Linked DNA regions of Homo sapiens: region 2 is linked to region 1. The links come from fine-mapping of genetic effects on gene expression. Tissue or cell type: lung. Region 1 holds a variant in brackets; the other region holds the start of a gene. All regions are shown on one strand. Distances are between the middles of the regions.

Region 1 (8,106 bases):
GCAATATAACAGTAACATTACAGTAACAGAACAAGGAAGAATTAATTAGTTGATGAATAGGGTAGAAGAAATGGTGAGAGATGGACAGATGAATGGATGGAATGGGATGGAAGAATGAGAGATGGAGGGATGGGATTGGAGATGGATGGATGGATGCATGGATGGATGGATGGGTGGGATGGGGTGGATAAAGGATAAGAGATGGATGGATGAATGGATGGATGGGATTGGGTGGAAGAAAGGATAAGAACAGCAGCATAGCACTAATGTAACAGTAACATAACAGCGTTGAGTTTACTGGGAGGATCAAATGAGATCCTGCAAAGAAATGATTTAATAGAGTGCCTGGTCCATTGCAAACACTCAATACATGTCTGCTGCTCTTATTAGCCCTATTTCCCAGATTGGAAAACCAAGACTCAAGGGGGTAGAATGATCTGTTCAAGGTCACGGGAACAGCAAAGGCAGTATTGGTCTTCCCACTGCACAGTCATGTCCTTTCACAAAGACAAAGAGAAATGTCTGCTCCCACTATAGAAAAAGAGATTATTTTATAATAAACAGTGGCTAATAATAACAATAAAATAGACTAAAAGTAGCCACCACCATCTGTTTTTAGCATTGACATAGTCCATGCCCTCTCTTGTTGAATTCCCATAACAACCCTGTAAAACAGCAATAAATACGTCCATTTTGCGGAAGAGAAAACTGAAGCTGATAGAGGTGGGCCATCTTGTGTGAAGTCTTAGAGGAAGGCTCCTCTGACTCAGTTTCCCCTCCTGCTCCAGGCTCCCTGGAGGCTGCCCACATGTGCAGCTCAGCCCCCCTGGCCTCAGGGCGGGCAGATCGAGTTCCGGGACTTTGGGCTAAGATACCGACCTGAGCTCCCGCTGGCTGTGCAGGGCGTGTCCTTCAAGATCCACGCAGGAGAGAAGGTGAGTGGTTCTCTCACAATGTCTTCTTCATGGAGTTTAGGCCAAAGGACTCCAGGGACAAGGCCCTAAACCCTGGGCACCAGCCACCTCCACAGTGTCCCCACCTCAGGTCCCCTAGCTTTCAGACCCATTACCCCCTAAAATGAACTCCTCACCTTCCCCAAACCTGCTTCCATCTGGTGACTTCCTCATCCACCTTGGTGTCCCCAGATGAGGAAGCAACTCCGTGACTTCCTTCTTCCTTTAACATTAACCCAGCACCTAATATGTGCTGGGCAGTGTGTTAAATGCTCCAGGTACATTTTCCAGTTTGCACAAATGGGATATTTGCTTTCAGCTGGGAGACATTGGGAAAAGCACTTCATAGCTCAGTCTCAGTTTTCCCATCTGTAAATTGGGACTGGTAATACTGATCTCTGAGTTGTTGTGAAGTTTGAGTTAATACATAGAACATGCTTAGCTCATAGAAAGTGCTCCAGAAATGTTTACTAATGCTTTTATTATTTGCGTTTTCACTCTCACAACAACCCCTAAGTGAGGTGCTAGTACTATCCCATTTTACAGATGCCTCATCAGGCCCCTTCACTGAATCCCTTTCCTCCCTCCCTCTGAACCTACAGAGGCTTCCTCCCTGTCCTCTCCTTGTCCCCTAAAAAGCAGTGGATCCTGTCTCACCAGCTCCAATCTGCTCTCCTGTGATTTTTTTTTTTTTTTTTTTTTGAGACAGAGTCTCACTCTGTTGCCCAGGCTGGAGTGCAGTGGTGTGACCTTAGATCACTGCAACCTCCGCCTCCCAGATTCAAGTGATTCTCCTGCCTCAGCCTCCTGAGTAGCTGGGATTACAGGCACCTGCCACCACACCCGGCTAATTTTTGTATTTTTAGTAGAGACAGGGTTTCACCATGTTGGCCAGGCTGCTATGAAACTTCTGACCTCAATCACCCCCCTCGGCCTCCCAAAGTGCTGGGACTACAGGCATGACCCACCATGCCCAGCCATCCTGTGACCTTTATCAGCATGAATGACACTGCATGTCATTCCCCTGCTCAAAACCTTCTACTAGTTCCAGCTTCCCTTGGGGTAAAGTGTGAATTCCTGAGCTTGGCATTCAAGGCTCTACCCAACCCAGGCCCTGCCAACCTCCCCCTCTCATTCATTGCTCTGCCAGGGCTTAGCCAACATTGTGGAGCAGCTGCCTCTCGGCCAGGGGGGCACATGGTGCTGTGAGCTCCATGAGCTTCTAGTTTTGGAAACCCACTTGGTGTGGTTTACCTGGAGTGTTCCCCTTCCTTGAACTCCTATTGATCCTTCAAGCTTCCATGCAAGTATCCCTTCCTCCATGAGGTCTTCTCTTATTACCTCTGTCAAATCCCAGGCAGCATGAGCAGCACTGCCTTGCTTCCCTTAATTGCCAGAGGTCCAGACCTTGATAATAAACAGCATTGTTGGCTGGGTGCTGTGGCTTATACCTGTAATCCCAGCACTTTAGGAGGCCAAGGTGGGCAGATCACTTGAGGCCAGAAGTTTGAGACCAGCCTGGCCAACATGGTGAAATCCCGTGTCTACTAAAAATACAAAAATTAGCCGAGCATGGTGACAGGCACCTGCAGTCCCAGCTACTAGGGAGGCTGAGGCAGGAGAATTGCTTGAACCTGGGAGGTGGAGGTTGCAGTGAGCTGAGATCGCACCACTGCACTCCAGCCTGGGCAATAGAGCAAGACTTTATCTCAAAAATAAATAAATAAATAAATAAATAAAGCATTGTTCATCACACTGTATTACATTTACTCAATTGCACTGTTTCCTAGACCGGATGATGGGCACACTGGAGCAAGGACTCTTTAATTTCTATACTTCCGGTGCCTAAACAGGTACTTGGCATACAGTGGGGTGACCCACATGTTTCCATCATTAATTAAACAAATAATGTTGAACCCACACCATGTGTCAGACACTGAGGATGCAATAGTAGCAAGAGAGATAAGGATGGAGGGTGGATAACAGCATGGGAGATGGATAACAGAATGGACACATGGATAAGATGGAGGATGAATGGAAGGATGGATGAGGGAAGGATGGACTGGATGGATGGATGGGAGAAAATAAATGAATGAAAGGATTAGTGAATTGATGGATGAATAGGGAAGAAGAAACGAGAGACGGATAGACAGATGAATGGATGGATGAATGGAATGGGGTGGAAGAGAGATGGAGGGATGGGATTGAGGATGGATGATGGATGGATGGATGGCAGGATGGGGTGGAAAAAAGGATAAGGGATGGATGGACGGACAGACAGATGGATGGGATGGGGTAGAAAAAAGGATGAGAGATGATGGAGAGGTGTAAATAGAAGGATGAGGAAAGATGGAGGAACTAAAGGAAGGGTGGGGAGAAAGATGGGAGAGAGATATCAGGATAAGGGAAAGATAGAGAAGAACACAGATGGAAGACTGGATGGATTGATGGGTGGATATATAGAAAGGTAGACAGATGGAAAGAGAGATGGAAGGTAGACCTTTACACAATGAGGGATGGATAGACAGATCTCGGGTACAGCAGAAAGATCTCCCCAATAAATGCCCACAAACCCTCTGGTCAGAGCAGGCCTTTCCTCCCAACCCCGGGCAGGTGGGCATCGTTGGCAGGACCGGGGCAGGGAAGTCCTCCCTGGCCAGTGGGCTGCTGCGGCTCCAGGAGGCAGCTGAGGGTGGGATCTGGATCGACGGGGTCCCCATTGCCCACGTGGGGCTGCACACACTGCGCTCCAGGATCAGCATCATCCCCCAGGTGAGGCTGGTGGAGGGGGTGGGCAAAGATGGGAGGCATGGTGGGACC[C/T]GGCTCTGACCCACCGCCCCTCCCCGCCAGGACCCCATCCTGTTCCCTGGCTCTCTGCGGATGAACCTCGACCTGCTGCAGGAGCACTCGGACGAGGCTATCTGGGCAGCCCTGGAGACGGTGCAGCTCAAAGCCTTGGTGGCCAGCCTGCCCGGCCAGCTGCAGTACAAGTGTGCTGACCGAGGCGAGGACCTGAGGTATGGTCGTCCCACCATGGCTGGGACCTGCAGGTGGGAGAGGAGGGGATGGCCATGCCCTCCCCAAGGGCCTTCAGGAAATGCCTCCCCCGATAGGATTATCACTCTGTTACATTAATAACCACATGTCTCTTATCTGCAATTCCAAGCTCTGACACAGTCTCTGAATACCAAGGTTTTCCCCCCTAAATTAGCAGTTAGTCTTCTATATTTACTTGGTGGCAAAACCCAACCTCAACTGACACAGGGCTACTGATAGCCTTTATTGCTCTTGCTCAGTATTTATTTTGCTATGAAAATATTGTTTGATATCGGGTGGTAACCTCACCACTCACTGGGACTATAATATAGGATTTTTTTTTTTGGTAAATGTCAAGTGTGGACTGGGCACAGTGGCTCATGCCTGTAATCCCAGCACTTCAGGAGGCTGAGAGAGGAGGATTGCTTGAGCCCAGGAGTTCGAGACTAGTCTGGGCAACATAGCAAGACCCTATCTCTGTGGACAACAGTATTAGCCAGGTATGGTGGCATGCACCTGTAGTCCTAGTTACTTGGGAGGCTGAGGTGGGAAGAACGCTTGAGCCAGGGAGGCGAAGGTTGCAGTGAGCCGATATTGCACCACTGCACTCCATCCTGGGCTTCGTCTCAACAACAAAAAGCTGTGTGGAAAGATACACATAAAATTTACTATCTCAACCTTTTTTTTTTTTTTTCTTTTTCTTTGGAGACAGGGTCTGGCTCTGTCATTCAGGCTAGAGTGCAGTGGTGAGGTCAAGGCTCGCTGCAACCTCCACCTCCCAGGCTCAAGCATTCCTCCCACCTCAGCCTCCCGAGTAGCTGGGGTTACAGGTGTGAGCCACCAGGGCCAGGTAATCTTTTTATTTTTTGTAGAGACAGGGTTTCACCATGTTGCCCAGGCTACAGTCGAACTTGCGTAGGCCTCCCAAAGTGCTGGGATTACAGGTGTGAGCAGCCACGCCGGGCCCATCTCACCCATTTTTCAGTGTATAGTTTCTGTAGTGTTAGGTACATTCACACTGTTACACAACAGAACTACAACTCTGTACCCATGAAACCCTAACTCTCCTTGTCCCCTCCCCCAGCGCCCAGCCACCAGCATTCTCCTGTCTCTCTGAGTGTGACTACTCTAGACACTGCATAGACGCAGAATCATAGGATCTGTCCTTTTGTGACTGGCTTATTTCACACAGCATGATGTCTTCAAGGGTCATCCACATCGTAGCATGTGTCAGATTCTCTACCTTTTTAAGGCCGAATAATTTTCCACTACATGGATAGACCACATTTTGCTTATCCGTTTATCTGCCAGTAGATACCCAGGCTGTTTCCACCTCTTGGCCGTTTTGAATAATGCCACTATGAACATAGGTGTATAGGTATATGCCTTTAGAAAAACCAAAGTGGCTGGGCGCGGTGGCTCATGCCTGTAATCCTAGCACTATGGGAGGCCGAGGCGGGTGGATCACCTGAGGTCAGGAGTTCAAGACCAGCCTGACCAATATGGTGAAGCCCCGTCTCTACTAAAAATACAAAAATTAGCTGGGTGTGGCGGCAGGCGCCTGTAATCCCAGTTACGTGGGAGGCTAAGACACTGAGACAGGAGAATCGCTTGAACCCGGGAGGCAGAGGTTTCAGTGAGCCAAGATTGTGCCACTGCACTCCAGCCTGGGTGACAGAGTAAGACTCCGTCTCAAAAAAAACAAAAAAAAACCTAAGGTGTTCTGGATTTATAAACCCCTCTGACCCTGAGGGTGTCCGAAGGGCTTGTGGTAGGCAATAATTTCCAGCACTAGAGAGGCAGCGTTGCTTGGTGGGTAAGAGTATACACAGGTGACAGACTGCCTGGGCTCAAATCCAGGCCCCCCACCCCACACCCCCACCCCCGCCCCGCCCTGCCACTTACTAGCTGTAGGATCTTAGGCAACTTATCTTGTGTGCCTCAGTTTCCTCATCTGTAAGGTGGGAATAATAGCACCTACCTACCTTGCAAGGATTGAATTATATGCACAAAGTTGTTGAAACAGTGGCAGGCATAGAGCAAAGAGTAAATACTCATTTTAGTCCTGAGTCACACTCCTGATAACATCATTTCACAGAGTTGGAATTGGAGGCCTGGGGCTTGCCTGACGTCACACAGCTTAAAAGTAGTGAGGTTGGGACAAGACCCAGGCACTCTAACGCCTGCATGACCATAGTAGGTTCTGATCATGTAAAAGGATGCTGTTTCATGGAAGGGCTTACTGTGCAAGACAGCCATGCTGGGGCCCCAGGGGTCAGTTCCCACCTGGGTCAGGGGCTCACTGGGCTCACAACCTGGAATCTCAACTCCTCCACCCTCCACGAAGGGTGCTACTCCATGCCAAGGGCTTATTCTGTGACAAGCCTACACACTTTTTTTTTTTTTTTTTTTTTTTGAGACAGAGTCTTGCTCTGTCGCCCAGGCTGGAGTGCAGTGGCGCGATCTTGGCTCACTTGCAAGCTCTGCCTCCCGGGTTCACACCATTCTTCTGCCTCAGCCTCCTGAGTACCTGGGACTACAAGCGCCCGCCACCACGCCCGGCTAATTTTTTGTATTTTTAGTACATACAGGGTTTCACCGTGTTAGCCAGGATGGTCTCGATCTCCTGATCTCGTGATCCGCCCACCTCAGCCTCCCAAAGTGCTGGGATTACAGGTGTGAGCCGCCGTGCCCCGCCACCCACACACTTTTATGTGCCATGTCGTCACGATTCAGCGAGGACGGATCCATTAGGAGCACAGACTCTGGGGTCAGAGGACTTGGGTTCAAATTATGGACCCACCACTAGCCTTGAGACCTTGGTCAAGCCACTGAGCTTCTCTGTATCTGTGTCCTCTTCTCTCAAAAGAAGAGAACAATAATATCTACCTTGGTGGACATTATGAGGATTGAGTGAATATATACAAGCACTTAGAATGTGTTTGGCACAAGGTGGAAACTAGAAATAGAACTGGACATAGCCATAAACAGGCCAGGCACGGTGGATCACGCCTGGAATCCCACCCAGGTGTTGTACACATCTGTATTTAAGGCCCACGTGACACCAGCCTTGAATGTCTTAGGAAGACTGTAGATTTGATTCTTGAAGCAGCAGTCAGTCATTGTAGGTTTGTTTGCAACGGCATGACTGAAGTGAAAGCTGTGCTTTCGCTGTTGGGGGAAATATAAATTAGTACAGTCACTATGGAAAATAGTATGATGATTTCTCAAAAAACAAACTAGAAATAGAACTACCGGGGCGCAGTGGCTCACGCCTGTAATCCCAGCACTTTGGGAGGCTGAGGTAGGTGGATCACCTGAGAGTTTCAAACAAGTCGGACCAACATGGTGAAACCCCATCTCTACTTTAAAAATACAAAAGCCAGGCATGGTGGCGCATGACTGTAATTCCAGCTACTTGGGAGGCTGAGGCAGGAAAACTGCTTGAACCGGGAGGCAGAAGTTGCAGCGAGCTGAGATTGTGCCATTGCACGCCAGCCTGGGTGGCAGAGCAAGACTCCGTCTCAAAAAAAAAAAGAAAAACGAAGAAGAAAAAAAGAGCCATAAACAGAAAAAAGAAAATAGCCATTTCACAGGTGGGGAAACTGAGGCACAAAGGGTTTGAATGACCTGCCTACAGTCAGCCTGCTCAAAGATGGCAGGAACAGGCTTCCTATCAGTTCTGCAGACCACAGACCCCAGACCCCATGTGTGGGGATGCCTGAACACAGGCACCTCACTCCTGCACTGCTTCAGGGACCTGTTTCTGGGCACACCCACACATCACCATGTGCCGACAAACGCACGTCCCAGCTAATTGTCCCAATCGTTCCCAGCGTGGGCCAGAAACAGCTCCTGTGTCTGGCACGTGCCCTTCTCCGGAAGACCCAGATCCTCATCCTGGACGAGGCTACTGCTGCCGTGGACCCTGGCACGGAGCTGCAGATGCAGGCCATGCTCGGGAGCTGGTTTGCACAGTGCACTGTGCTGCTCATTGCCCACCGCCTGCGCTCCGTGATGGACTGTGCCCGGTAAGGCTCCCGCCCCGGCCTGACCTCACAGCAGCCCTGCAGTGGTGGGGGAAGGAGGCGGAGGCAGTCCTGGGCCACTGGGCTTC
Region 2 (8,106 bases), 68 kb before region 1:
AATAATATCACAGGGTGTACACCCACTGTGATATTAGAGGAAATAATATCTTCCCAGGATATAATGAATAATATTACAGGGTGTACACCCACTGTGATATTAGAGGGATTAATATCTTCCCAGGATATAATGAATAATATCACAGGGTGTACACCCACTGTGATATTAGAGGAATTAATATCTCCCCAAAATATAATGAATAATATTACAGAATGTTCACCCACTGTGATATTAGGAATAATAATACCTCCCCAGGATATAACCAATAATATCACAGGGTGTACACCCACTGTGCTATTAGGAGTAATAATATCTCCCCAGGATATTACAAATAATATTACAGGATGTACACCCACTGTGACAATATGGGTAATATCTCCCAGGATATTATGAATAATATCACAGGGTATACACTTACTGTGATATTAGGAGTAATAATATCTCCCCAGGATATAATGAATAGTATCACAAGGCGTACAGCCACTGTGATACTAGGAGTAATATAGTAGTATCTCCCCAGGATATAACAAATAATATCACAAGGTGTACATGCACTGTGATATTAAAGGAAATAATATCTCTTCAGGATATAATGAATAATATCACAAAGTATACACCCACTGTGATATTAGGGGTAATATTATATCTCCAAGATATAGTGAATAATATCACAGGGGGTACACCCACAGTATATTAGGGGTAATAGTATATCCCCAGAATATAACGAATAATATCACAGGGTGTACACCCACCGTGACAATATGGATAATATCTTCCAGGATGTTACGAATAGTATCAAAGAGTATACACCCACTGTGATATTAGGGGCAATATCTCCACAGAATATTACAAATAATATCAAAAGATGTACACGCACTGTGACATTAGGGGTAATATCACCCAAAAATATTACAAATAATATCACAGCATGTACACAATGGTGTACGTTCATTGTGATATTATGATATCCATAGGGTATTACAAATAATAGCACAGGGTGTACCCCCACTGTGATATTAGGAGTCATATCTTTCTGGGAGGTCACAGCGTGTACACGCATGGTGTAAATTCACTGGGATATTAGGAGTAATATCGCCCTAGAATATTTCGAATCATATCACAGGGTGTACACCCACTGTGATATTAAAAGGAATATCTTTCTAGAACATTACAAATAGTATCACAAGGTGTACACCCACTATGAGATTAGGAGTAACATCTCCCTAGAATATTATGAATAATATCACAGTGTGTACAGGCACTGTGATTTTAGGAGTACTACCTTCTTAAGATATTATGAATAATATCATAGGGTATACACCCACTGTGAAATTAAAAGCAATAGCTCCCTACGATATTACGAATAATATCACGCAGTGTACACTCAAGGTGATATTAGGAGTAGTATCTCCCTAGGAAATTACGAATATTATCACAGAGTGTACACCCACTGTGATATTGAAAGTATTATCTTTCTAGGATATTATGAATAATATTACAGGGTGTACTCCCTCTGTGATATTAGGAGTTATATCTCCCTAGGATATTACAAATCATATCACAGGGTGTACACCCACTGTGGTATTAGGTGTAGTATCTCCCTAGGATATAACAAATAATATCACAGGGTATACACCTACGGTTATATCAGGAGTTATATCTTCATAGAATATTATGAATAATATCACAGGGTGTACACCCTCTGTGATATTAAAAGTAATATCTTTCTAGGATAGTATGAATAATATCACAGGGTGTACTCTCACTGTGATATTAGCGGTAATAACTCCCTAGGATATCACGAATTCTATGACAGAGTGTACACCCACCATGAGATTTGGAGTAATATATCTCTAGCATATTATGAATAATATCACAGGTTGTACACCTACTGTGATATTAGGAGTAAAATCTCCCTCGGATATTACAAATAATATCACAGTGTGTACTCCCACTGTGATATTAGGAGTAAAATCTCCTTCAGATATTACGAATAATATCACAGGATGTACACCCACTGTGATATTAGGAGTAATATCTCCCTTGGATATTTCTAATAATACCACAGCGTTTACACACATGGTGTTCACCCACTGGGATGTTAGGATAATATCTCCCTTGGATATTACCAATCGTATCAGAGGCTGTACACACGTGGTGTTCACCCAGCGTGATATTAGGAATAATATCTCCCTCGGATATTAGGAACAGTCTCTCCCTGGGACTTAGCAGAACGTAGCCCCCCAGTGTTAAATAAGCGACCACAGCAAGAGGTAGAGGCGCAGGGACTGAAATGAAGACAAATATCTGACAAGTTTAAAACACGTATTTAAAATAGAATTTATAAAATGCTTAATCTGCCGACTCAGGAGCCCGCGGTGCAGGGTGGGGTGGGAGTTGGCAGGTGACCGCTACACCAGCAGAGTAAGACTGCAGGGCTGCGGCCCTCCCTCCTATGCCCTTCTGTTCAGACACCCGAGGGGCCCATGTGCACTCCTGGGATCATACGACCAGAAAACAGGACCCTAGAGGTTTCTTGAGTTTCTGCTTACCAGGGCGGCTGGGTATAGCCCTGCCAGCCCATTGCATAATCTTCTAAGTTCTCCCCACCACCCTCCATTCCAGCAGCGAGGTGCCTGTGACGCGGTCTCCATCCTCTCGGCCTCGACCCGGTGGTCCCCGCGATTGGACGCTTAGGCGGTCACCAGGCCTCCTTGTTACTAACGTGTGCACACCTTTCAGTTCTCTCATCAGGATGAACTCCTGGAAATTGCTGGGTCCAAAGTGTTTAGGAAGTCTGGAGTGATTCTTGTTGCAGGGGGAAGAGGGAACTATGGAGGTGTCACTGAACTTTCAGGGGTTCCGGGACCCCCCAACCCGGTGCCCGTCCCAGCTCCCCGAGCGCCTCTCTTCCCCCATCCCCCACCTCGCCTGTTTTCACCTCCCGTGGCCTCACTCCCGCCGCGCAGCTGGACCTTGCCCGGGGCCTCCCGATCCCGGAGCTCGAATCCCAGCCGGACCAGCCCAGCCCGACCAGCCCAGCCCCGCCTCTTCTCCGGCAGGATCGCGGCCGAGCAGTCTGCCCAGAGACTTAGCGACAGACAGACGCTGGGACCCACGACGACAGAAGGCGCCGATGGCCGCGCCTGCTGAGCCCTGCGCGGGGCAGGGGGTGAGTGCCCCCCATCGCGCCCCACTCTCCTTTTCCAGGCTTGGTTTGGCTGCAGATCTCTCGGGCTGCGATACTGGGGAGAGGAGAGACCCCCAAATTCCTGGACCCGGGAAGCGAGGAGACTTACTCCGGCCCCCTCACTGCAGCGGGTTGGATTTCTTTCACCAAGCCAGCAGCCGAGAGCCCAGCTCTATTTAAGGGGCCACCAGACCTCCCAGCTACTAGGGGCTTTGACTCTTCTTTGCATAAAGCTAGTGGGTCCCCCAAGCCCTCCTACCCCCGGAGAGCCCTTACCTCTCTGGTTTCTTTTTCCATTGCTCTTAGCAAAGGACTCCAGGGAGTGGAGTTCATGGAGTGGGGGTGGGGGTTGCAAACTGCCAGCATTTCGAGGGCCAGGGAGTTGAAGCAATAAACTGGCAATGAACTGAGGGCTTTCTCTGTGCCTAGCCTTGTGCCCAACCTTGTGCCATGCTGCTATGAACTTTGCTGCTATTAATCCATTTAATACAACTCATAGAGGTAGAGTCTCGTTTTCCCCCTTTTACAGGGAAGGAAACTGAGATACAGAGAGGTTAAAGTTTGCACAGCCGGTGAGTTGTGAAACCAGGAGGAGTAAAAAGACAGCGGAGAGAGAATTGAAGAGGCCACGTCCACTAAACTTCAAATTTCTTCTAGGGTTAGATAGGACCAGCAGACCTGCTGAGATGAAAATAACAGATCAAGCTGGGCCGGTGGCTCTTGCCTGTAATCCCAGTACCTAGGAGGCTGAGGCAGGAGGATTGCTTGAGACCAGGAGTTCGAGACCAGCATAGAGAGACCCCCATCTCTACAAAACATAAAAAAAAAAAATTAGCCAGGCCTGGTGAGGCTGCTTATGCCTGTAATCCCAGCACTCTGGGAGGCCGAGGTGGGAGGATTGCTTGAGCCCAGGAAATTCGAAGCTTTGTTGAGCTTTGATTGTGCCACTTCAGCCTGGGCAACAGAGTGAGACCCTGTCTCTAAAACATAAATTAATTAATAATAAAAAATAAAAACAAATCATACATCAAGACCACCAGTCGAACGAGGTTTGGGGTCAGATAAGCCTGGGTCAGAGTCAGCTTTGCCACTTCCCATTTGTGTGTCCCTGGGGGAGGCAGTTCCCCGACTGGTGCCTCAGTCTGCTGGTTTCTGAAATGGAGACAGTACTGTCTGCGTCCTGGAGTTGTTATAAGGATTAACTGACAGTCCATGCCTAGCAATGATTATGGAGCCCAGGTCTCCTAGACCACATGGCCCAGTTCCCTGGGTTCAAATCCCAGCCCTTCCACTCCTCAGCTGGGTAAAGTCAGCAAAGTTACTCAACCTCTCTGGTCCTCAGCTTCTTCATCTGCAAATCAATATAATTGCAACTACCTAGGGTTAATGTCAGGATGAAAGGAATTGAGAATTAGTAGGTATTCCAAAGAGTACTTGGTACATTTTTGTGTAAATGTTAAAGATCCAAAAAGTTGCCTGGCCCCCTGGGCAGGTGAGCTGGGGACCCCTGCCTTGTACCATCCTAAGGGTCCTCTTTGTGTTCCCTCAGGTCTGGAACCAGACAGAGCCTGAACCTGCCGCCACCAGCCTGCTGAGCCTGTGCTTCCTGAGAACAGCAGGGGTCTGGGTACCCCCCATGTACCTCTGGGTCCTTGGTCCCATCTACCTCCTCTTCATCCACCACCATGGCCGGGGCTACCTCCGGATGTCCCCACTCTTCAAAGCCAAGATGGTAGCTGCCATCCCTGGGAGCCTGGAACCAGGCAATGTTCGGGGGAGGCAGGGGACAGGCTGGAACCTGGTGAAGTCTTAAAGTAGACTCCTCCTATCGGGGTGTAGAAGGGAATCTGTTAATCAAACAGAGCAATATTAGAAAGGCTACAGAGGTCAACTCAGTGGAACACGGTTCTCCCAAACAGATTTTGTAATTCCGAAAATCCACGCATGCGCAAACATACGCATACACTCCCATGTTCCTGGACAGTTTATAGCTACCATAACCTGGCATTTTCCAAAACATACCATGTAGACTCTTGGATACACAAGGTAATTTTAGAGCCACATTAGGATGAACCTTTTAAAAAGTTATGCATTTATTTTTATGTTCCCCCACTGGCTGTATTATAGGACAATTTTTATATGTGATATGTATTTACCTTAGTGTGTTAAATAAACACTGGCATTCCAAGTGTGAGCCTTTCTGCTCATCCATCCTCTTCTACTCCATTCTTGTAGGCTTCCAAAGAATGTTCTTCAGAGTTCATTCATTCTTCTGCCATTGTATTAATTTTTACATTATCACCCGCCACCAACCCAGGGGTTGGCAAACTTAAAGAGCCAAGCGGTACACAGTATTTGAGACTTTGTGAGCCAGGTAATCTTCCTTCCGAACACTGAACTCTGCCATTCCAGAATGAACGCAATAGTCATAACCATAGACAATAGTCATGACTGTGTTACTTTTTTGTTTGTTTTTTTTTTTTGAGATGCAGTTTTGCTCTTGTTACCCAGGCTGGAGTGCAATGGTGCGATCTCGGCTCACTGCAACCTCCGCCTCCTGGGTTCAAGTGATTCTCCTGCCTCAGCTTCCCGAGTAGCTGGGATTACAGGTGCCCACCCCCACACCTCGCTATTTTTTTGTATTTTTAGTAGAAACAGGGTTTCGCCATGTTGGCCAGGCTGGTCTCCAACTCCTGACCTCAGGTGATCTGCCTGCCTTGGCCTGCCAAAGTGCTGGGATTACAGGTGTAAGCCACCACCCCCGGCCGACTGCGTTTCAATAAAACTTTATTTGTAGTCACTGAAATTTGGATTTCATGTAATTTTCACCTGTCATGACATATGCTTTTTGTTTTTCTTTGATGATTGATAGTTTGCCAACTTCTGCTTTAAACTGAGGTTCTTTGAGCAGTTCCTCCAACGTAACCTAGCTCTGGCCTTCCCTCTGGTGTGCCCACGTTCTCTCATTTTCTTCCTTTCTTTTATTCAATAGAGAAACCAAAATATATTAGAGAGACCCTAGAGACTTACTGGCCCAACAGAGAGTTGCTCCTTGATTTCATAGCAGGGATTGAAAAATGACTTGGAGAAAGGATAGTTTTTTACCTGGTGAGTACATTTCATTTCCTGCTGTTTCTCCATACCCACAGTCATCTCATATGTGCACGATTGGAGCACTTCCTGCATTTTGGAAAACACTCGGTTGGCTCAAGCCCTTCCTGTGCATTATTTATATGACAGTTACAGGTCAGGAGTGATCTGCAATGCCCTTTACACATTGTTCACATTGGCACGTTGCTAGCTGGTGACCCTGGTATACTCAGTATCAGCCAGGATGTTGCAGAACCAGCTCCCAGTTGGACATGGGGCCGCCTACCAGTTTGCTGTGACCTCTCTTATTGCCCCCCAAGCTTATCTAAGCCTGTATCCTCAGGTGCTTGGATTCGCCCTCATAGTCCTGTGTACCTCCAGCGTGGCTGTCGCTCTTTGGAAAATCCAACAGGGAACGCCTGAGGCCCCAGAATTCCTCATTCATCCTACTGTGTGGCTCACCACGATGGTAATGATGCCTTCAGTCTGGAGCCCGGCTTCCTCCCAGCTGCTGCTTTGCCTGCCACAGTGGAGAACAAGGGGAAGAGAAGAGGCTCCCCTCAGCCTCCCACCCTCCCCTAAGGGGCCTCCCTGACTTTCCCGTCCAGAGCTTCGCAGTGTTCCTGATTCACACCGAGAGGAAAAAGGGAGTCCAGTCATCTGGAGTGCTGTTTGGTTACTGGCTTCTCTGCTTTGTCTTGCCAGCTACCAACGCTGCCCAGCAGGCCTCCGGAGCGGTAAGTCGGGGCGTGGGCCACCCTGGGAAACCAAAATGGTGGCTCATGCCTTGGGTCCCTTCCTTTCTCCTCCTGTTTCCACATACAACTTATTCTCTATACAGTGACACACACAAGCCAGTCACTTACACTCTAGAGACACAAAATCCACTCCCGCACCTGTCAGTACCCATCATCCCATACATTTCTTATCAACACAATTTCCTGTCTTACAGGCCCACATCACACGTGCCACTTGCACACGATGCACACACTTATAGGCACTGATTCATACATCGCACAAGTACATGCATGCACGCACACACACACAACCTGGGCACAGACACACCTGTGTGCACACATACCCCTCCGTGCACACCTCCCCTCATGTCATGGATTCACCCTCCCCATGTTCCTATGCACCTATATTTACACACTCATTCTGCACACCACTCGTATTTCTGTTGCCCAATCTGGGAAGCAGCTTTTTTTTTTTTTTTTTTTTTTTTTTTTTTGAGAGGCTTGCTCTGTCGCCCAGACTGGAATGAAGTGGCATGATCTCAGCTCACTGCAATTTCTGCCTCTCGGGTTCAAGCACTTCTCCTGCCTCTGCTTCCTGTGTAGCTGGGATTACAGGTGTGTGCCACTACACCTGGCTTATTCTAAATTTCTACTAAATTTCTACTAAAAATTTCTACTAAATTTCTACTAAAAATTTTTGTATTTTTAGTAGAGACGAGGTTTCACCATGTTGGCCAGGCTGGTCTCGAGCTCCTGACCTCAAGTGATCCACCTGCCTTGGCCTCCCAAAGTGTCGGGATTACAGGCGTGAGCTCTTGTCATTCGGCCGGAAGCAGCGTTTCTCTATTAGGAGACATGATGGGTCATTTTCTCTGTAAAGAGAAAAACATGTAGCCTAGACCAACTTCCCTCAGCCTCAGCTTTAGTAATGTTGTGGCCAGACAATTCTTTGTTGGGTGGACAGGGCTGTCTTGTTTGCTGCAGGGTGTGAAACAGCATCCCTGGCTTCTGCCCATAGGTGCCAGTAGCATACCATCCAATTGCAGTAACCCAAAATGTCTCCAGATATTACCAAGTGTCCCTGGGGGT

Evidence for each region. PIP is the estimated chance that this variant, and not a neighbour inherited with it, causes the effect.
Region 2: it holds the start of ABCC6, and the variant in region 1 is fine-mapped to the expression of ABCC6 in lung (TOPMed, PIP above 0.99).

The regions. Positions count from the first base shown.
Region 1 is chr16:16,150,492-16,158,597 of GRCh38, reverse strand. It overlaps ABCC6 (ATP binding cassette subfamily C member 6), which reads left to right. Exons shown (of 31, transcript NM_001171.6): 27 at 789-935; 28 at 3,567-3,725; 29 at 3,804-3,970; 30 at 7,826-8,020. Among named protein-coding and RNA genes, the nearest start is that of ABCC6, 69 kb to the left of the region's middle. RefSeq lists a silencer at 7,972-8,106. The variant C/T (reference allele first, on the strand shown) is at 3,774.
Region 2 is chr16:16,218,465-16,226,570 of GRCh38, reverse strand. ABCC6 (ATP binding cassette subfamily C member 6) reads left to right here and starts at 3,077. Exons shown (of 31, transcript NM_001171.6): 1 at 3,077-3,172; 2 at 4,740-4,922; 3 at 6,624-6,749; 4 at 6,889-7,017. The coding sequence starts at 3,137.